5 linked regions of the Homo sapiens genome follow. The protein of the gene in region 5 purifies or fractionates together with the protein of the main gene of each other region. This does not show direct contact. Each region holds a gene or a part of one and is shown on either strand. Other genes may lie near its edges.

Evidence for each region.
Region 1: the proteins of FANCD2OS (region 5) and CNOT6L purify together in Homo sapiens (affinity purification with mass spectrometry; one large-scale study listed by BioGRID and IntAct). This does not show direct contact.
Region 2: the proteins of FANCD2OS (region 5) and ZDHHC13 purify together in Homo sapiens (co-immunoprecipitation; one large-scale study listed by IntAct). This does not show direct contact.
Region 3: the proteins of FANCD2OS (region 5) and RAB3GAP2 purify together in Homo sapiens (co-immunoprecipitation; one large-scale study listed by IntAct). This does not show direct contact.
Region 4: the proteins of FANCD2OS (region 5) and MINK1 purify together in Homo sapiens (affinity purification with mass spectrometry; one large-scale study listed by BioGRID and IntAct). This does not show direct contact.

What each region holds. Positions count from the first base shown.
Region 1 is NC_000004.12:77,712,747-77,716,175, reverse strand, and holds the end of CNOT6L (CCR4-NOT transcription complex subunit 6-like), read left to right. Parts: 3' UTR 1-2,789; downstream 2,790-3,429. UniProt on the Homo sapiens protein: Has 3'-5' poly(A) exoribonuclease activity for synthetic poly(A) RNA substrate.
Region 2 is NC_000011.10:19,168,704-19,172,891, reverse strand, and holds part of ZDHHC13 (palmitoyltransferase ZDHHC13), read right to left. Parts: intron 4,068-4,188; coding exon of another isoform or gene 3,925-4,067; exon of another isoform or gene 3,924-3,924; intron 2,482-3,923; coding exon 2,324-2,481; intron 170-2,323; coding exon 72-169; intron 1-71. UniProt on the Homo sapiens protein: Palmitoyltransferase that could catalyze the addition of palmitate onto various protein substrates. Palmitoyltransferase for HTT and GAD2. May play a role in Mg(2+) transport.
Region 3 is NC_000001.11:220,269,184-220,274,039, forward strand, and holds the start of RAB3GAP2 (rab3 GTPase-activating protein non-catalytic subunit), read right to left. Parts: upstream 3,271-4,856; 5' UTR 3,155-3,270; coding exon 3,040-3,154; intron 1-3,039. UniProt on the Homo sapiens protein: Regulatory subunit of the Rab3 GTPase-activating (Rab3GAP) complex composed of RAB3GAP1 and RAB3GAP2, which has GTPase-activating protein (GAP) activity towards various Rab3 subfamily members (RAB3A, RAB3B, RAB3C and RAB3D), RAB5A and RAB43, and guanine nucleotide exchange factor (GEF) activity towards RAB18.
Region 4 is NC_000017.11:4,888,512-4,892,699, reverse strand, and holds part of MINK1 (misshapen-like kinase 1), read right to left. Parts: intron 3,054-4,188; coding exon 2,937-3,053; intron 2,479-2,936; coding exon of another isoform or gene 2,392-2,478; intron 2,184-2,391; coding exon 1,965-2,183; intron 1,750-1,964; coding exon 1,576-1,749; intron 1,245-1,575; coding exon 984-1,244; intron 552-983; coding exon 466-551; intron 299-465; coding exon 188-298; intron 45-187; coding exon 1-44. UniProt on the Homo sapiens protein: Serine/threonine kinase which acts as a negative regulator of Ras-related Rap2-mediated signal transduction to control neuronal structure and AMPA receptor trafficking.
Region 5 is NC_000003.12:10,105,252-10,110,128, forward strand, and holds the start of FANCD2OS (FANCD2 opposite strand protein), read right to left. Parts: upstream 3,005-4,877; 5' UTR 2,764-3,004; intron 1,287-2,763; exon of another isoform or gene 1,209-1,286; coding exon of another isoform or gene 1,190-1,208; intron 1-1,189.

The sequences.
Region 1 (3,429 bases), on a different chromosome or scaffold from region 5:
TGTGAATTCTCACATTGATGAGATATTCTTTTTCCCACCTGCCCTACCCTTTAAAAAAGGTCACTTTTCTAATGTGTAGTAGATTCATTTACGCCTTTCCCTTTGAGTCATACCATGTTTGGAGAACTGTGTGAATTGTAGGTAGAGAAATTAACTAGGGAAGCCAGAAGCTTGAACTAAAGTTTTAAATTTGTAGGCAGATGAGAACTTTTATACTATGGTTGCTTTGGGCGATTCTAATTTTGTAATAGCATCATGATCACCAAAATTAATTCAAACATTTTAGTACATCTTTAATCTGTCTTATTTACCAAAGTTCTAATCTGTTTAAGAACAGGATGCCAAGAGCATCTTTCATTTTATAGAATGATATGCTCACCTTTATAAGTGTCACCTAAAAGCTTGAGGGTAAAAAAGAAGCAGCCCATATATCTAAACTACAGGATGTCTTGAACAAGATTCACAGAAAGAAAGAAAAAAAAGCAGTTCTTTCCAGGAAGGTGGTAAGGAAGAGCATGCATATTTCTTGTTTTAACCAAATACCTTTTTTATGTAAATGTCTCTATTAAACCCCAGGTCCTACACCAGGAAATAGGGTGATAACCAGGAAAATACCAAGCTTTAACCCAGTTGGCAGTTCCTTGTGGCATACATTTGGTTAGACTTGGGTTTTTCCTGGAACCAAAGGAAAATAAGCATGTTGAGTTCTTCGTTCAACAGACATGACATTGAAGTAATAGAATATTTTTTAAGTAAAATAGTTTTCACTTTCAAAGCCTATGACATAAGGACATTTGTGCTTATTAATTGTTAATTTTTTTTTATGGTACATTGTATAAACTGAGTAGCATTGAACTGCATTTTAGAAGTATGTCATCAGAAACAAATCACATTATGGAAAGGATATACAAATGCCAAGTGATATGACTCTTTTGGCATGGTGGTAGCATGGTCCATTCAGCTTTCAGAATCTTTCGGAGGCTCTAGTTTGGTGCCTAGTACTAGTTATTTTTGTTAGAACAATCTCTCAAAATTTAGATAATTTTCCAGTTGTATGTCTGTCACTTTTAACTCTAAAGCGTAAGAATCATGGTAACCCTCTCAGAAGTGGTCCTTTCTTGCTCATTTCAGTTTCGTATTAACTTCAAATCACTGATGTATTGTCTTTCAAGCTATCAATTGTTATATGTACCAATTTAATTTAGTTTGTAGTTATCTGAAGTCACAAAATTGGTTCAGCATTGATGTCAAACAATGGCTTTGCTTCTTACCAAACAGACTTAGTATCCTGCTGCTTGTTTCAATCTTGATGCAGTAAGTGATGCAGTATCTGGGTCTGTATTTACTTAGAAACTGTACTGTCCTTTCTCTGTGCTTAACTTGCTAAAAATATATTCCCTTACCTGTGAAATTCCTGAGCGGTGCTCTGCCAACTTTTCAAGGGGAGGGATTTGGATGGCTGTGTTACTGCACACTGGATCTGGAATTGTTCAGGGTTATGAGTGACAAATTTCTTAAACACCAGCAGCACTGAGATGTGCACTATGGGCATTCGTACAGTTGTTGTCCAAATGCAAACAACTTTTTCATCTTGGAGAAGCTGAGATACAGAGTTCAATAGAACTACTTGGAATATTTTGAGAAGGTTGAATGTTTCATCTTTGGCTTTGTTGTCTCTGGAGTGGGGAAGTATGGAGGGCTTTTTTTTTTTTTTTTTTTTTTTTTTTTTTTTTTTTTAAAGAGAGTGTGTATGTACTTTTTCTCTCTATAAGGGCCAGGGTGTTGGTCAAATTCACCATCGATTAATTTATATCTTCTGTTGTGATTTTTTTCAACTATATAACAAGTGCCAACTAATTGTCCATGGGACAATCTACTTTTCCACTCAATTTATCGTTTTGAGTAGGGAAAGGTTCATTTATTTTCATTACCTGGCATTAAGTTAAAGAATTCATTATTTTGCATACATTTGAGTCATTCTGTGACCTATAAAGTGTTTTTGTAACTATCTAATTCTAATGGTTGCAAAGCAAAGCACATGACTGTAAAACCAAGCAAGGTGTTTTAGTAACTTTTTCCCTGAATACTTGGTAGTTTCCATTGATACTATTCCAAAACAAATTCTGCTGTTTTAGGTTGTATATTTACTTTGCTTTTGTTCTAAGAAAAAGCCAAGGACTAAATCAACTTGTTTTTGTGTTTCAGTAATCAGTTTAAAATCTAAGATTTTTTTTTAAATTAGACTATTTAATGAAGTGCCATGTAATTGTAGCTTGCTAGTGTTTAATGTTTAATAGACTGGTTCTGTAGGTGTTTTAACCATTTAACACTCTCTGCCATCCCTGGAGAAAGTGGTTCTACTCTTACTGAACACATTCTCTCTGACAAAATCACCAGCTGCTTTATTTTTCTATTTATTACAGTTAAACAGTTGATGAGGTCTGAATCTTGACCAAAACTGCTCAGCTGAGATGTTTTTCACAATAGACACTGTACAAAGTGTGCGTGCAAAAGGACACGGTTGGTAGTATTTTTTCATTAATGTGAACATTGACTAAAAAAAAGCAGTCCTGCCTTTTAAATCTTGTGGCAGCTCAGAAGGGAGGTGCTTAAGAACCTTAACTACTATGTCAGATAACAAAATATTTTTTTCCATTTTGGAGATTGGTTACTGCTCACACATGATGTATAGGGCTAAATATATGCTTGTTTCCTTGCACCTGTGTACTTCCCCTCTCTCCCTCCCTTTCCTTCCCCTGTAGGCAATAAATGGCCATTTTGCAACTGCATACCTTTGTCTTGGTTTTTGACTCTTTATTTGTGCAGTATAAACCTCTGCTTTTAGGTTGATACGTCTCTTCTAAAGTGAAGTAGGGAGCCAAGATAATTCAGGGCAAAATACATAATTACAAATTCATGCTACATTTTTTTTTCTGGTGAAAACTACATTACTAAGTACATTGTTTAAAAAAAATTCTGAAGCTAGTTATATGACTTGCTTTGCCCGAAGAAACCAGTGCAAAGGGATATATGTCACTTCTGAGTGGAACTTTAAGGGCCAGTCTTTAATTTGCCATATTTCCTTTTCTTGCCTGTGTGATCATAGAAGTATATGTTGAGATGAAACCTCTCATTCCAGATCCTTAAGTGACTTTGTTGAAGAGAACTCCCCTGCTGTCCTTTGGGCATGTAGCGTAATAAACAACTGCTAAATCTCAGTGTGTTAATACAATAAAGTTGTGTTATTAGGGCTTAATTTAGTTGATCCTGACTGACAGACAACCACCAGACAGATTTGCTGAGTTATCAATATTGAAGAAACTCAACAGCTGGACCTGCTAAGATCTCAAGTAAATTCATTCAACAAACATTCAGGTATCTTCTGTGAACAAGGTGCTGTGGGCATATTAAGATGAAAGACATCTTTAT
Region 2 (4,188 bases), on a different chromosome or scaffold from region 5:
GGCACCAGCTTAGGAAACCAGTGACTAGGGATCTTCCACAGGACTCAGCATCCAAAACAGGTCTCGCTTACTTGTATGGTGTCTTCCTGAGGGACAACGTCTGTTTCATATGCTTGCTCTGCTTCTGCAGGCTGATTCTCTCATGGGAGGTCAGGCCCAGAAAGGCAATCTGAAAAAGAAGGGTGGAAGGTTGCACACATTCAGTGTGCAACTTTTAGATAAATAAAACAATATAAGATCAGTATCAGTGCAATTATCTCAATTTGTGTGTTCTCCTTAGTATCTCCTTGAAAAGGGACAAAGAAAAAGTTAATCAGAAGTAAAGAACATTTAATTCCAAAAACATGGGGAAGACTGAGAATTAAGGTAACTTAAAAATTCTTAAATCATTAAAAACCATAACTACTCACAGAGTTATCTCATTTAAACCTCAAATTCCTTATCTGTAAAGCAGCTCATCATACCACTCTCATCATATTATTTTAAGGATTTGAGATAGTCTATTTAAAATACCTAACTGCGGCAGGGCACGGTGGCTCACGCCTGTAATCCCAGCACTTTGGCAGGCCGAGGCGGGTGGATCACGAGGTCAGGAGTTCGAGAGCAGCCTGGCCAACGTGGTGAAACCCCGTCTCCACTAAAAATACAAAAATTAGCTGGGCGTAGTGGTGGGCACCTGTAATCCCAGCTACTTGGGAGGCTGAGGCAGGAGAATCACTTGACACGGGAAGGCGGAGGTTGCAGTGAGCCGAGATCCCGCCACTGCACTCCAGCATGGGTGAAAGAGCGAAACTCTGTCTCAAAAAATAAATAAATAAATAAGTAAATAAAATCAAATACCTAATGCAGAGGATTAGAGAGATGAAGTAACTGATTCAAAGCCACACAGCTTAGAGTGGGAGAGCTGGGACTGACTCCTTGGTCAGTGTGAGAATAAAGCCATGCTCCTAACCAACAACCTAGACACTCATCTTGACTTGCTACAGTCAAAGCCACGACTACCCAGAGCGCTCAGGAAATGAACGTTTCCGAAGAACTGGATTGTTTTGTTCATTAAGAAAACAGCTTTGTTCTGAATTCTTCCTTTTGAAAATTATCTGAAACTTTGAGTCCATTTTTTGCCTTATTGACCTTTTTCTAAAAAATTAAGGATATTATCATCTCATATACTTGTACTTATTCTAAGATTCCAGAAAAAAAGAAAGATAATTAGAAACAATGTCTCAAAGCATTATAAATACTAGGTATTATAAATGATAATACTAATAATCACAGATGCTAGTATCTATTCTTGCTGCTGGAGTCTATTGAAGTCAGAGTGATAGGAGAGTGAGAGGAATGTTCGGAAACCTCAGTTTAGTCAATATTATTAACTCAGTTTCATCCCTAAACATTTTCTTTTTTCTCTTTCTTTCTTTTTCCCTCCCTTCCTCCTTCTCTTCTTGTTATTATTATCATTATTATTATTTTGAGATTGATTACTTTCCCATAAAAGTGGAATATACTTTGCTTTGGTTGAGTAATGCTCTAATTATCTGAGGTCTTACAGTAATTGATTCAGACTGATGACCACCTGCTGCCCATTCCACATGGGCAGGACACAGCAATAATGAGAATTAGGTTAGGCTCATAGGGGATGGAAGCCAGCAGGGAAGGGACTAAAGCTTTGGAGAAAGCTGAAGGTGACTACTGCCCTGGAGCTTGAACTTTCTAATGGCCATGGCCTTCTCTGAAAATGTAATTACTATGACCACTGGTTAGTGATGTATTTTTCATTTCTTACCACTCTCATCCATTTAAACACTGCATAGTAATAAGGGTAACAAACAGCGCTGGAAAAACTGAGGGAAAACAATCATCTGACATTTGCATGATGGTTTACAGTTTATACTATGCTTACACACAACATATAATTTAACTGTACAATGGAAAAAGCCCTTGAATGGGACTGGCAGAAGACCTAAGTTTCCAGTTCTGATTTTGCCACACACTGGGTGACCTTGAGCAATTCAATTTACCTTTCTGTACTTCTATCTGTAAAATAAAGAGGTCAGATTAGGTAACTCCTAGGTCATACTCTAATAATTTATTATGCTAACCTTTAAACCATCTTGTGGTTTAATGTAGTAGACAGGCGTTATTATCCTCATTTTACAGACAAAATACCTGAAATTCAAGTGTGGTTAAATGACATGGCTAGACCCACAGAGTCAGTGACAGAGGTAAAAACAGAATGTGCATCTTCTGATTTTAAATTCAAGGCTGTCTCACTACAAGTTTTAGAAATTTTACTCAAAGCCATTATAAGAAGAGAAATAAATACCTGAAAGAGTTGATTTAATAATAAAAATGTTGACCATGAGAAATGGAAAGTTGCTAGCATCAAGATATATAAAACCCAAGGGGAACAGGCCACAATCTGATTGAGGTAAGTCCATAATCCATCTTCTTTGAATGTTGTGGCACAATGACTGGACAAATCTGTGAATTCACCAAAAAAAAAAAAAAAAAAAAAAGGCAATAAACTACTTATCAGTCTCCAAGAAGATAAAATCACTGCAGTTCTATATAGGGAGAAGAGAAAGTATGGCACAGATCATGATTCAATTTTAGGATTTCATTTTCCACATGACAGTTCAAAAACTAAAGATGACAAAATGGTGGCTCAATGTTAATTGAGGCTATGATAACACTGTATAAGTAGTTAACAGTGAAGGAATAAAGAAAAAGGGTCCGTAAAATCTTTACTAAAATCAGCATTCAGCATAAGATATACTAGCCTGAAGTTAATTATTTGTTTAGAACACTCCCTACCTTATTCATGTTTATAGCAACTATGGGTCTATTACAGGACTGAATATAAACTCTTATTAAGCATTCAGATGAACAGGCCATTGCTGTGGGCACAAGATATCCCACAAGCACCTAGATATCATCAGAATACAATCTAATAGCATGCAGGGAGCTGGGCATGGGTATACTTCTGCACTGACACCATAACTAAATCTGCAGAGGAAGAAAGGCCAGATGAAGGGACTCACAAGACAGATACACCTGGGAAAAGAATATAGAGCAAGATTCAGATGGTCACAGCTCAGTTTCTCCCCAGGTGTGCCAATTAAAGAACTTTACTATGGCCTTTCATATCAACCTCCTAACCCATGTAGCTAGGAGCAGCAGTAAGGAGAAATACACACAGGAAGCAGCAGAAACAAGGGAACGGATCTTCAAGGTTATGTAAATCCAATGACTTTTACAGGCACCCTGCCCATGCATAAAGGGTGAATTATTTTTAAAAGATAATTCTGTCGATTTGCACCTTGAGGTTTCATAAATGCCTCTGACAATTTGATAAACAGTTTTGGACATTTTCCCAATGCTGCTCTGAAGAACTCCAGGGACAGGAAGAAAATGAGTCTATGACTTTCCTGTCAACTGTCCATTTAAATCCTAAAAATCTACTTTTCTTTTCTCTTTAAGTCTCTGATTCCCAACCATCTTTCATGAATATATGCCAGAAGCATTCTAAGAGCAATCATCACAGAGTAGCAATCAAGGTTCAAGTTAAGGCAAATTACACTCTCTCTAGAGCATCTCATTAGGATGGCAAAGAAAGATGCATCCCATGCACCTGATATCACAAAAAAGAATATAATTTCCAACAGTAGGTGGAGAAAACAGCTGTTGATTGGGAAAGAATATCTATTTTCTTTCAGTTTATGGATTTCTACTGCTCCCTTCTGGGAATTCTTTTGATAATACAGCATGATCTCACACTGAAGTTTTCAGAATACTGGTTTTCAGATTTAATATCAAAGATACAACAGCAAGTTGTCACGTACATTATCTTATGCAATGTAACACTTTAATTTGTGCTAATACATTCTTATCAGCTGGCCAGTGGCTAATGGTAGGGAACTCACATCATTCCAGGTCAAACGTTTTCATCTTTAGATGGCTCTGACAGTTACAGAGTTCTTCCTGATGGTAATCTACAATCTTTCTTTCTGTAACTTGTAGGATGCTGACACTTTTGGAGTCACTTACTATCCACCTTGTAAACAGACCTTACAAAAGATGAAATGGATGGAGGCTGTACAGAAGTAGCAGCTATTGGATCACATGAGAAGGAGAGTATAGAGCAGGGCTCTAGTAATACAGCATTAATGGTAAACAAGGGAGGTGGGA
Region 3 (4,856 bases), on a different chromosome or scaffold from region 5:
CAACTAGCATGCAAAGATCTGCAAAAAGCATCCAAGGCATAGACAACAGTGAGGGCAAAAACCTTAGCCACAAATGTGGTTGGCTGGTTTAACAACAAAAAAGAGCGTCTGAAGCATAAGAAATAAGGGGAGAGGTGTATAAGGTCCAAGAAATGGCAGGAAGCAGAGTCTCAAGGGCCTTATACACCATTTAAGAACTTTGGATTTTACGTTAAGTGCAATCAAAAACCATTGAGTGTTATTAAAAGGGCAATGTTAGGCTGGGTGTGGTGGCTCATGACTGTAATCCCAGCACTTTGGGAGGCCAAGGCAGGTGGATCGCAAGGTCAGGAGTTCAAGACCAGCCTGGCCAACATAGTGAAACCCCATCTCTACTAAAAATACAAACATTAGCCGGGCATGGTGGCGCATGCCTGTAGTCCCAGCTACTCAGGAGGCTGAGGCAGAAGAATTACTTGAACCCAGGAGGTGGAGGTTGTAGTAAGCTGAGATCATGCCACTGCACTCCAGCTTGGGCAACAGAGTGAGACTTCATCTCAAAAAAAAAGGCAATGTTGTGATCTAAATTATGCCTTAAAAGCTCACTGTAACTACTGTTGAGAATTATTACAGGAAACCAAGAGCAAAAGCAGGAAGAATTGCTAGAAGAAGACACATATCATATCATAGCCCAGGTTGAGAAAAGATGGTGGCCTGGACCAGGAGAGTGGTAGAAGGATAAAGAAAATCTGTTCCTTTTTTCTACATTCCCTATCTACAATCCTGCATCTGCTATCCTTCACAGCCAAGCTCCTTGAAATAGTATATTTCACTTTTTAACCCCTTATCCTATAACTATGCTTTCTGCCTCCACTATCCTACTGAAACTGTCCTAAGGTCCAAGTTACCTCCACCTTCTCAAAACCAATAAGCATTTTTCTATCCTTTTCTTACCTGACCCCTGCTGCATTTGCAAAACTGCTGACCATTCCTCACCCTCATCAAGTTCTCGCCTTCCTCAGCTCCGAGGGCCTTACTCTCACATGATTTTCCTCTTTCTTTTACTCCTTCTCAGTCTTCTTCCCAGTAACCTCTACTTGACTTTTAAACACCAGTGCTCCTCTAAGCTTACAGCTTTAGTACTCAGTGCATTTCACAACATACATAATCCTTGAGACTGAACTGACACTTTTTGCTGTTAGCTCCCCAATTAACATCTCTGGCCCAGTACTCCCTACTGTTTAGACTATCTATATCTGGTGTTCAACCAGATGTCCTTACTTGGACATACCATAAACATTTAAAATGCAAAAGGTTGAAAATCTGTATCCTTCATTCTCTTATTACATATAGTTGCCCAAACCACAAGCCAAAGACTTCCTAAACTCCCCCTCACTTACTAGTTACAATGCCCATCACCAGACCTTCACAAGGTCCTGCAGATTCTAACTCCTTAACGTCTTTCTAATCTAGTCCTTCATCTTCATCCTACTAAGGTTCTTAATTCAAGCTCACATAATTTCTTGCTTGGATTACTGGAAGAGCTTCCCAATCCATTTCCCTTCTTCCAATCTCTCCTCCACTTTGCTACCAGAGCACATTACAGGTCTTCAACAAATGTTGTTGATTACATTAAGTACAAATCTGACAATGTCATTTCTCTACTTAAACTTTCAGAGAAACGCCACAATTTTCACAAGGCCTCTCATGGTCTAGCTCCTTATTACTACTACTGCCTCATTGCCCCAACTCTTCCTCTCCCATCCTCCTCTCCAGCCATTCAGCTTTTCTTAGTTCTCTAAATACCATGCCATTTCAGGCCTCCCTTCCTCTGCACATGCTATTACTGCTCCTTTACTCCTCTAACTAGTACTTCAAAGGTAGGCTTAAGTATCACCACTTCAAGAAAATGCCTCATGTATATCTCAGTCACACTGAATGGAAGTTAATGATTTGTCTGTAAACCAGAAGTTCCTACAGCAGGGTCCACCAACCTTATTTGGTTTGTAGCACCAATGACTGGCACAAAGTATGCAATCATTCACAGATGGGTTCGATTTGATATCTTCTAAATTTTCTAAAAAAGGGAGAGGAGCTTAGTGGGCTTTATATCACCATTCCGGTATAGCACAAAGTGAGAGCGCTGTACTACAAAGCCAAATGTGCTTCAGGTTGGAAATGCAAAAATAAAATAAAATAAAATAAAATAAAATAAAACACAAGGCACACCCTTTCAAAATGAAATGTACGAAATTCTGAAAGCCTATATAGTATCTAATAAACCAGCCTTGGAACTTTATACTACTTGGGGAAAGGCTTATTAAACACTTTGATGATAAAAATAGGTGGAAGGCTTCAATAAAGCAAATTAACCTTTCTTGGCTATGTCACTGTAATTTTAGTTCCTAATGTAGATTCTCGTTCACTTCCTGACAGGTTATTTTCCTTCTTTGAGAGAGTCTTACCTCAAGAGTCACTCATTTGTCAGCCATTTGTTCTCAAAATCTGAATGGGGGAAATGCAGATGAAAGAAGGGAGAGTGTGGGGGGATGATCAACACTTTCGGAATGGGAGGTAGCAGAAGGCCACAGTCTCCGGGATGGAAGAGAGTGGGAGCTGGGGCAATACCAGAGTGGAGCGCTGACATGTGGCAAGGAACGGGGAGGATGCGATCACGGAGCAGGCAACATGAAACAGGGAACGACCCCAGGCTGAAGATGGGAGACGGAGAAGATACTCAGAGAGAAAGCTAGGAATGTGTGGGGGTGGGGGGAGGGAGGGAGAAAGCGGTGATAGGCAGAGGCGAGAGGAAACAAGACGCAGTTTTTAGCCAGGGGTCAGAGGGCCTAAGGAGAAAAGCTGGGTCGAGAGGAAGACAACACAAATGGGGCTTCAGGACGAGGTGGGCAGGGTGTCATCCCGGAGCGGAGGGGAGGCACGGGGAGAACTGGGGGTCCAGAGGGCAGAGGCAGGAGGCGCAGAGCGAGTAGGAGACTCGAACCCGTGAGCAGAGGCCGCGGGTGACGAGGGAAGGAAGGGCGAGGCCAGAGAGGCACTTACTGGGGTCCCTCCGCAAGGCGCCGCTGAGGATCTCCTCCCGCAGGTGAGGAAAGAGGAAGTCCCGGGCGGCCTGGAGGTCCTGGAAGTAGCAGAACTGGACAATGGAGCAGGCCATGGCTCCAGGGAACCCCACTACGGCACTCACCTTACCTCACCACGCCCTGCCCCCTCCACCCCACTGCGGCCGCCACCGAGCCCCAATAGCTCTAGCCAAGCAGAAGGCGGAGAAACCAAACCGGAAGCTGTCACTGACACGGGTCCGCTGTCTCCGAGTACTGCGCAGGCGCAGGCTGGCCCAGGCGCCTAGGGCGCGGGGGCCCGGGTCACGTGACTACGGCGCCGCCGCTGCAGGTGGAGCCAAAGTCGACGTGGAGGCTTGGGGCAGATTTTTCAGTCCCAGTTGTGTGTCTACGCCGAGGCATGAACCCTTTCATTCATTCTGGCTTTTAGCCAGAGGTGTTCTAATTGGACTTGTCCGCGCAGCCCTTTGACTTATTCAGTCTTATTGGTCCCCTACTATTGGCACGATCCTGATGTTTCACAGAAACTAATTCGTTTTAAACTAGTGGCAGGCCAGTGGGGGACCGTATCCTGCAAGAGTCGGATTTTGAAAAGATTAATTGCTCTTCCGGAGATTAGCCCCGTCAAGGCTGGCTTTAAATGCTCCTACTATAGATTCCCATAGTACTACGCAAGCCCAATATAGTACGTGTTATAGTGTATTATACACTTTTGTTTTCATTATTCATTTGGTTTTTCATTCATGCATTCATCCATCCATTCAACAAATATTTGTTAGTCTTTTAAATGCCAGCCACGCAGGGTGCTGAGCATTAGAGAACAAAAGAGAAGAAGTACCTTTTCCCAGAAAGCTGGAATTCTAGTGACTGATACAGGCAGTAAGCAATTAATTACAGTATTTCCCTTTAATCCAAGGGGATATGTTTTAAGATCCCCAGTGGATGACTCAAACCATGGATAGTACTGAAACCTATGTATGTGTATTATGTTTTTACCTATACATATATATGATAAAGTTAAATTTATAAATTAGGCACAGTGAAAGATTAACAATAACTAATAATTAAATTGAATAATTATGTGGAAAATGAACCCATGGATAAAGGGGGGACTACTGTACTTAACTATTTAACTGAAATTGTGATCATGCTAGTAAGTGCTTCATAAATATTTGCTGAAGAAATAAATGGAATGCATACATAAAGTAAATAGAATAACTTGTTTCTTTGACAAAGCACTATTTTTGAAAGTACTTTACATTGTTCATTTGGATAGTCACAAATGCCATCTAAAAATAGTGTGTCTTATCCCATTTTTAAAATAAAGAAATTGAGCTGTCTCTGAGCAGACTTTAAGTTATTTTTCCAAAAAATAAAAACAAAAAAAATTATTTTAATGTGAGCACAAAGGCCTGTAGGCACTTACACATTTCCTAAAGGAAACCTAAAGAGGCCATCCACTTTGTATGAAAAAAGGGCACAGGAACAAATGAAAGGCAAGTGGATGGGGTCCAGAGCATTCATTTCTGTCAGGCCCGTGGACATACACACTTAGTCCTAATAATATAACAACTATAATTTAGTGCCCAGGTTCCTACTCCATTATTTCCTACTTCTAGAGTAGGATGATTTTCACAAAATAGGATAGGCAATTTCTATGTTATCAGGTTAACAGGAATCAGTTCTTCACCTATAAAAGGCAGTTGAATCAGATGTGCTGTAAGGTCCCTTTAAGCATCAGGGACCTATACTTCTGTAATCAAAGCTTTCAGAAAAAGCAAGCTGCCAGTGCTCCCT
Region 4 (4,188 bases), on a different chromosome or scaffold from region 5:
CCGAGCGTTCCCAGCCAGGGTCGCTCCTCCTGAGGTCGGGGTTACTGTTGGGGGGGCAGAGTCAGGGTCAGGGAGGCACGGTGCTCCCTTCTCTGGGGTGCTGAGCTGCACTGCAGAGGGAGCCATCACCAGGGAAGCGGGTGGCAGAAGTGAGAGGTGAGAGTGAGTTGGGGGACAACTCTATTACCTAGAGGCGTTGGGCGGGCCAGGGGGCTGAGCAGGGGGCCCTGGAGGCTTTGGGGTGCCCCGCTCTGCCCGCCTTTGCAGATAGATTTGCCAGGCGGAGTTGCTGCGAGGTCTGTGAAGGGAGCACAGGGGTGCCGAGGGGGCGGCGGGGGGGCGCTGAGGTGATGGGGCTGGGGCTTTCCCACCCCCAGGCGGGTAGGCTGGTAAAGTCCCTGTGCCCCCCCTACTCCCTAGGCTGCCCTCAGACCTCACCCAGGCGTTGCCCTACCCAGGCATTACCTGGCACGGACTGCCTGGGCTGGCCGGGACCCTCCGGCCCCACTGGTGTTAAGGGCAGTGGCGATAGATGAGGTCCTCTGAGGCACCTGTGGAGAGAAGTCCACGTGCTGCGAGCTGGCGCTGCGACAGGCACTTCTCAGATGTTTAAGCCTCACCTCTGAGAGGTGAGCTCCCCCACTTTGATGGATGAGAAAACTGAGGTTCAGGGGAGTTAGTGAATACGTCCAGGGTTATGAAGCCGGATGATGGTGGAGCTGCGGTTCTAACTGGCAAAGTCTGCCCCTTAGCGCTCCCAAAACACCCTGGGCGTTTCTCCGTTCCCACGCTCCCCACAGGGATCGATGCCACCCCTCCACGTCGCGTCCTCAGCTGGACGGCTGACCCCGGCAGGGCAGCGCCCTGGCTTTCTCTCGCTTCCCGCCCTGCACTCTTCCTCCATGTGGCCTGCCCCTTCACTGCCCTCCTTCTCTTCATGACTAGCTCTCTGCTTTTCCCTGGGCCTGCAGAACTGTCCTTACCTTGGGTGGGGCCTCGTTATCTGGGCGGACCCAGGCTGGGGGATTCGGGCTGGGGCCAGGTCCTTCAGAGGTGGGGTCTGAATTCTGGCGGATGACAGCTCCTCGGGCACTGGGCGTGGCAGTGGGTGCGGGGATGGCAGGGTCGGGGTCATGGGAGGCTGGGAAGGCAGCCAGGTTTCGGGTGGGCTGGTCCTGCAGGGACTGGGATCGGGGTACAGGTGCTGCATATGGCTTCAGTGGGACCCGGTGTGCCACCAGGCTCTGCAGGGAGAGACCAGGGAGGGTGGGCTGCCTGCTCCATGGCACATCCCCACCTGCGAATTGGGGTCTGGGGTGGGAAAGGACTTTAGCTGCCCCTTCCTCCATTGAAGGACAAGGGGTTCCTTGAGCCTGATGACAGCTAAGTCAGGACAGACACAGGCAGCAAGAAGCAGGTGAGTGAGTCTGTCCACAAAGCCTGTGCTCTGTAATCCTGGCTCACGGCTGAGCAGGTGTGTGTGTGTGTGTGTGTGTGTGCGCGCGTGTGTGTGTACCTGTGCTCTGAACAAAGCTCCCTGTGTCTTCATTAAGACAGGGGTGGGGAGAGACTCACCTTGTGCGGTCCCTCCTGGGGCTCCACCGGCCTCTGCATAGGAGGAGTCTGGGAAAGGGGTCCTGGGGGCCCTGGGGAGGCCTGGGGGATGGGGGGCTCAGGCCCCGTGCTGCCTGGCTTGCTCTTGGCCAAGGGAGAGTTCTGCTGCTTGTTCATCCTTGTTCTCTCTTCTACCTGTGATGTGAAGGGATGTCAAGCAGGCCAGCTCTTGCCTCCCTGTTCTCAAAACTGAGGGTCCCACCTGCCCTAACTACTCCCGCCCTATGCTCTGTGCTGTGTGCTCCTTTCCCCTACTTGGTGCCTGCTACTGTGAACTACTACTTCTTGTGGCTCTCCAGGCCTCAGGCAGTGGGACTGCAGTCTCAGGAGGCAAAGGAGGCAGTGAGTACCTCTCGGGCCCAGGCTGGTTTGTCAGCGGGATTCATGCCCCGACCATAATGGTACAGGGGCTTCCTGTCCCCAGGCAGGAGCTGCTGCTGCTGCTGTTTCTGAAGCTGCTGCTGCTGTTGCTGCTGCTGCAGGGACTTGAGGTAGGCATGCTCCTGCTGCAGCTGCCTCTGGAGACGTTCTGACTGCCGCTGCTCCTCCAGCTGCTTCCGCTTGTATTCCTGGGCCCAAGGGTAGGGAGAGAGGGCTCAGCAGGGTGTGGCCCTGGGAGTTAGAGCAGGCATGCCCTCTCTTTTCTCCAACTGCCTAGAGAGGAGATGTATTCCCTTGATGTCCTGGGTGAATCCCTTCCCTTGAAGTGTTCCCATCCCGTTCCAGCAAAGAAGCTCTGAAAAGCATCTTCCCAGAGGACGCTGAGGGACCCGTTACCAGCAGCAGGGCCTGTTCCTGGAGCAGCTGTTGCTGAAGGATCTCGAGCTGTCGCTGCTCCTCCTCTAGCCTGTGACGAATATATTCCTGGGGGACGGGGTGTGGGGTGGGGGGCAGAGGGCAGGGAAGGAGGAAGAGGCAGAGGAGGGCAGCAGCAGCGAGTTGGAGAAGGAGGAAGGGATCCGCAGGAGAATGAGGGGGTGCAGGGGAAGAGTAAGAGAGAGGTAGGGGAGGGGATGACATGAGCCCCAGGGGGCCATGCGGCACAGATGGGGAAGAAGAGGGCACAGGGAATGAGGGGGGATGAGGAAGGGGTCGGGGAGTCAGGGATGGGGTAAAGAGATGGGAATGAGGCAGGGAAGGAAGAGGGAGGGGGTCAGGGTTGGGGTTGAAGGGTGGGAGAAAACAGAGAGAAAGAGTGAAGCTAGAAAAGATAGGAGGAATCTGGGGGTGGGGGAGAGAAGGGGGAAGGGCACGGGGAGCAGGGGCGGCAGGCAGCAGGAGCGGGAGGGCGGGAGGGCAGGGATGCGGGTGCGGCGCTCTACCTGCTCGCGCTCCGCCTGCCGCCGCTCCTCCTCCCGCCGCAGAGCCTGCATGTCCTCCAGCCGCCGCTGCTGCTCCTTCTCCTGCAGCTTCCGCTGCTCCCGCTCCCGCCGCTGTTGCTGTGGGGAGAGCCAGGTGGTCTTAAGAACCATACCGGACATCGCGTCAGCACTGCCCCTCCATGGACAGGGAGGGGAGCCCTCCTTGCTCACCACGGAGGGTGGTAAGAGAGACCGGCTTCCGCTTGTTTCTGCAACTATACCCATCCCCACCCAAGGGCCCGCGGGGCTGGGCTCGGGTAAACAGCCGGTAGCTGTGACGAGAGAGGCTGTGAGACTGACTGCTGCCTGTGGGGTGGGCTTAGCTAGACAACACCTTCCACTCCCCACACCCCACCAAACAACAAACCAAAGCCGAACTCAAAACAAGCCTCCCCAGCACTCCTAGCCTAAAATCGACCTTTGCCTGAAGTCCATATAGAGCGGGTCGTAGTGATAGCCTTTGGCCACAAGAGGGCACCAGGTGCCCGTGCACAGAAAGCACAGAAAAGAGGGACCTGGCCCACTCCTTGACAAGCACCAGTGCCCAGGTGGTACTTTACTTTCACGGTATTTCTGTGGTGGCTTTCACGAAGTCTACCACCACCACCACCAACAAAAGCACAAACCCTGAGGGACCCTTACACTTGAGGGAACTTGTGCCTACTTCTGCAATGAAGTTGCCAGCAGGCCTTCTCCAGGTAACACCTTGTTAGATAGGACTCTGTGGCTGGGCGCGGTGGCTCACACCTGTAATCCCAGCACTTTGGGAGGCCGAGGCAGGTGGATCACCTGAGGTCGGGAGTTCGAGACCAGCCTGACCAACATGCAGAAACCCTGTCTCTACTGAAAAAAATACAAAATTAGCCGGGCGTGGTGGCGCATTCCTGTAATCCCAGCTCCTCAGGAGGCTGAGGCAGGAGAATCACTTGAACCTGGGAGACGGAGGTTTTGCGGTGAGCCTAGAGTGCGCCACTGCACTCGTCACCCTGGGCAACAAGAGCAAAACTCCATCTCAAAAAAAAAAAAAAAAAAAAGATAGGACTTTGTTACTATACTATCTGAACGCTATATTTATTTTATTTTTTTATTTTTTGGAGACGGAGTCTTGCTCTGTTCCCCAGGCCAGTGGCGTGATCTCAGCTCACTACAACTTCCACCTCCCAGGTTCAAGCGATTCTCCTGCCTCAGCCTCCTAAGTAGCTGGAACTATAGG
Region 5 (4,877 bases):
AGCCTTTGGAAGTAGGTCTTAACCCATTTTATAGATGAGGCAATGGATTTGTCTGAAATGAATATAGGTCCACTGTTAGGACCTATGCTGTGTTGTTAGCTGCTAATGACAGAGTCTTTATCTTCTGAGGTGACAGAAGCTTCTGGGACTTCATGATGAGACCTTATTACTTGAGATTAGAAGAAGCTCAGAAAAGTCATGTCTTAAAAATATTTGTGGCTGGACACAGTGGCTCATGCCTATAATCCCAGCACTTTGGGAGGCTGAGGCGGGCGGATCACTTGAGGTCAGAGTTCCAGAACAGCCTGGCCAACATGGTGAAACCCTGTCTCTACTAAAAATACAAAAATTAGCCGGGCGTGGTGGCGCATGCCTGTAGTCCCAGCTCTGTGGGGAGGCTGAGGTGTGAGAATTGCTTTAACCCAGGAGGCGGAGGTTGCAGTGAGTCAAGATCGCACCACTGCACTCCAGCCTGGGTGAAAGAGCAAGACTCCATCTAAAAAAAAAAAAAAAAAAAAAATTATATATATATATATATATATATATATATATATATATATATATATATATTTTGAGGTTCGCGATGTATGAACCCTGTAGTAGCAGCTTCAGCATCATTTGGAAACTTGCAGAAATGCACATTTTTGGGCCCCACCTCAGACCAACAGGAACAAACTCCACGTGGGACCCAGCAATCTGCATTTATATAAGCCCTCTTGCATTGTCTATTTTGAGAATTTCTTATGCTATTCCTTTCAAACAACTCTAGCTTTCACTATTCATTACTGAGATCATCTCCTGGCCCCAAAGGCCTCTGCATTTTCTAGCACAAGGGAGCAACTTGCAGACCCCTGGGTTATTTATATACCACCTCAGAGGAGCTACACCAGGCTGGGAGAAAACACTTCCAAAGTCCAGTCAAAAAACTGTTAAAGATTTTTGTTTTTCTAGGTGTGGGTGTGGTTTTAAATTTGTTTTTCTGATTTGTTTGTTTTCCATCTATGGAAGACCTACTGGTTCCATAAGACCTTAATTTTCTTTTTCCTTTGAAGATTAAAAAGGGCTGTGAGGATATTGCTAACTGAAAATTTATGCAAGTAAAATTAGAATTTTCCATCATTCTCCTTCAACATTGCCAGTATATAAGAAGTTTTACTAAATTCAGAAGCTAATTTTTTTTAGCACGTACCTATTTTGTTAGTGGGCATAGCAGGTCCCTTTTCTTTCTAGCCAAGTGTATTTCTCTGCCCCTTCTTCTCCCACAGAAGATAGCAGCAGATCTCATCCTATCCAGTAATTGCCCCAGAAATACTGTGAAAATTTTGACACCTTCACCGCCGTTTGTGAGATAGAAAAGTTCGTTTTAAAAAAAGAACTGTTGGCCGGGCACAGTGGCTCACACCTGTAATCCCAGCACTTTGGGAGGCCGAGGTGGGTGGATCACTTGAGGTCAGGAGTTCAAGACCAGCCTGGCCAACAGGGTGAAACCCCGTCTCTACTAAAAATACAAAAATTAGCCAGGCGTGGTGGTGGGTGCCTGTAATCCCGGGTACTCAGGAGGCCGAAGCAGGAGAATCACTTGAATGGAGGCTGCGGTGAGCCGGGATCAAGCCATTGAACTCCAGCTTGGGTGACAGAGGGAGACTCCGTCTCAAAAAAGAAAAAAACGTTGGTGACATTTCAGACCAGAAGACCTGCTCCTGACAATGGTTAGTATAGGGGGATTTGTTGATTTTCTCCAACTAGTATGTTTCTCATGATCTATGTAGGCTCTTTGCAAAGTACTAAGTGTTCAAATATCTGGGCTGCCTTAGAATGAGAAAGGGACACCCAAGGGACAGTTATCTATTCCAAACACCCTGTGAAAGGCTTCTGGTGCTTGATATCTTGACCTTCAGAGCACATATCCAAGAGAGGGACTACTGTGGTACACCACCATGGCAAGGTGGGCGGAGGGTATGAATGCTGTCAAGCATATTTTTAATCCCAGAATATGGGATTTAAAAAAGTATTTAATCCCAGGATCCTTTTCTTTCTTTCTTTCTTTTTTTTTTGAGACAGAGCCTTGCTCTGTCACTCAGTCTGGAGTGCAGTGGCGCGATCTCCGCTCACTGCAAGCTCCGCCTCCCGGGTTCACGCCATTCTCCTGCCTCAGCCTCCCGTAGCTGGGACTACAGGCGCCTGCCACCACGCCCGGCTAATTTTTTTGTATTTTCAGTAGAGACAGGGTTTCACCGTGTTAGCCAGGATGGTCTCGATCTCCTGACCTCGTGATCCGCCCGTCTCGGCCTCCCAAAGTGCTGGGATTACAGGCGTGAGCCACCGGGCCCGGGCCCCCCGGATCCTTTTCTTGCCACATCTTCTAAGAGGAAGTAGAGGTAGAAGTAAAAGTCTTTGTCAAATGTCCAGCCTAGGTCGCGGCGCGGTGGCTCAGGCCTGCAATCACAGCACTTTGGGAGGCCAAGGCGGGCCAATCACTTGAGGTCAGGAGTCAGCCTAAATATTCGGCAGAACCAACATGGGACGAGAGCGCTTCTAAACCTAGGTCCCTGCACCTCTTCGCACAAAGTTTAAAGATGGTTCACCCCATCCCCACCGCCCAGAAGTCACTGTCAACCACTCCAGAAGGGCTTGAACCTACAAAGTCTGCTCAAGCTGCTCAATAGCTCCCAGATATGGAACACCTGATTCTCCTGGCCAAAAAGGTTTCCCCTTCACACCCCACTTCCCATTCCAAGGAACCCCATCTCTTGATTTCCCCACCTGGGAAACAGGGCGTTAGCGCCAAAGTGCAGCTGAGGTCCTGAACTGTAAACGGAGATCCCGAGGGTCTGGAGCTGCCGAGAGTGCGAGAGGCTCCCACTCCCCGCCGGAAGAAGGGGCTTGGGCCTCCTGGGTCCCTATCCGGGGGCGGGGACCAGAAGGTTCTGGCTGAGGCGGACGATGCGGTGGGAACCTGGGCCCAGTCCCACCATCCGGGCCCGGGGCTCACCTGCTGAACTCTGAGGGTCTCACGCTCCAAAGTGGCGGCCGCTGTTCGTGGCGCCTGGCAACCGCCTTTGTGACCCAGGACGGCAGGGCAGCCCGAGCCGCGGCGGGGATGGGGGCTCGAGGCGCCCTACTGGGAGGCGTCAGGGCCACACTCCCCGCCCCCACCTCATTGGAATGCCTTGTCCAGGACTTGGCCTTCAGGAGGGCTGGTCCGAATCCTGTCCCCTCCATTGTCCTCCTCCCTACCGTGCCACACCTGTGTACCTGTGTGCCTTTGATCAAGCCACAGAGGACAGGCGACCCCTACTTCAATGGCCATGGTCAGAGGCCTGCATAAAAGTCCCAGGACCTGTAGTTAGTGTTAAAAGTTAGTCCCAACTCATCACACTCTGCTCAGTGGGTGCTCAGGCAGAGTGACCCAGAGCTCTGTCAGGTTTTGTTGCTCTATTTGAATGATCCCAGTGGCAAAGAAAGAGAATTAATAAATGTTCACCTGTCAAGAGCAGGAGGAAACGCACGTCTTTCCTTGATTTCCTGACAGAAAACCTTTCTCAGCCTTGCGTTAAACCTGAGAGTACCTGTAATCCCAGCTATCTAGGTGGCTGAGATGGGTAGACTGCTTGAGCCCAGGAGTTCAAGACCAGTCTGGGCAACGTAGTGAGATTCCCAGCTCAAAAAGAAAACAAAAAAATCTCAAAAAGAATGATTTTGTCTCATTCTTATAATGCAGAAATACACTTTCGCCATATTAGTGAAGGAGTGATTTGACAACTTTGTAATCATCACTTAAAATAATGACCCTGGATGGCTGAGGGAAGGGAGGAGTCTACCCAGCTGATGTCTGTATTCCCAGTACCTGGCTATTGCCATGTCTGGCAGTGTGCAGTATTTGTGGGAGGAAGTAACTAATGGCCTACTTGGCCTTCCCTTGTACACCCAGAATTGCCCTTGCATTTTACAAACTATAGAACACACACCACAAATAAGACTTGTCACCTTTGTTCTGGTTTTTTGGGTAAAGCTGATGGAGAAAGACTGAGGGTCTGAGAATAGAGTCAGGCAAGATCCTGATTTAGAAGACACACACCCACTGTGTGTACATGTGCACCTTTTGGAAGAAGAGGTAAGTGGAGAAGAGTCTGGAGGGCATGTCGGGTCAGAACATGAAGAGAGAGGCACAGAATAGTGAGACTTGGAAGAGACACAAATGATTTTGAATTACAAAACTTTTTTCCCCAGTTAGTTCATTTTTATTTCCCTCTTTTTTTTTCTTTCTTTTTTTGAGACGGAGTCTCACCGTGTCACCCAGGCTGGAGTGCAGTGGCTTGATCTTGGGTCACTGCAACCTTCACCTCCTGGGTTCAAGCGATTCTCCTGTCTCAGCCTCCCGAGTAGCTGGGATTACAGGCGCGTGCCACCAGGCCCAGCTAATTTTTGTGTTTTTAGTAGAGACGGGGTTTCCCATGTTGGCCAGGCAGGTCTCGAACTCCTGACCTCGTGACCTGTGCACCTCGGCCTCCCAATGTGGTGGGATTACAGGCGTGAGCCACCACACTGGCTTTATTTCCCTCTTGAATAAAAAAGACTTTTTTTTTTGAGATGGAGTCTCACTCTGTCACCCAGACTGGAGTGCAGTGGCGTGATCTCCACTCATTGCAAGCTCTGCCTCCCGGGTTCACACCATTCTCCTGCCTCAGCCTCCTGAGTAGCTGGGACTACAGGCACCAGCCACCACGCCCGGCTAATTTTTTTGTATTTTTAGTAGAGACGGGGTTCACTATGTTGGCGAGGATGGTCTCGAACTCCTGACCTCGTGATCCGCCCGCCTCGGCCTCCCAAAGTGCTGGGATTACAGGCTTGAGCCACCGAGCCCGGCTGACATTTTT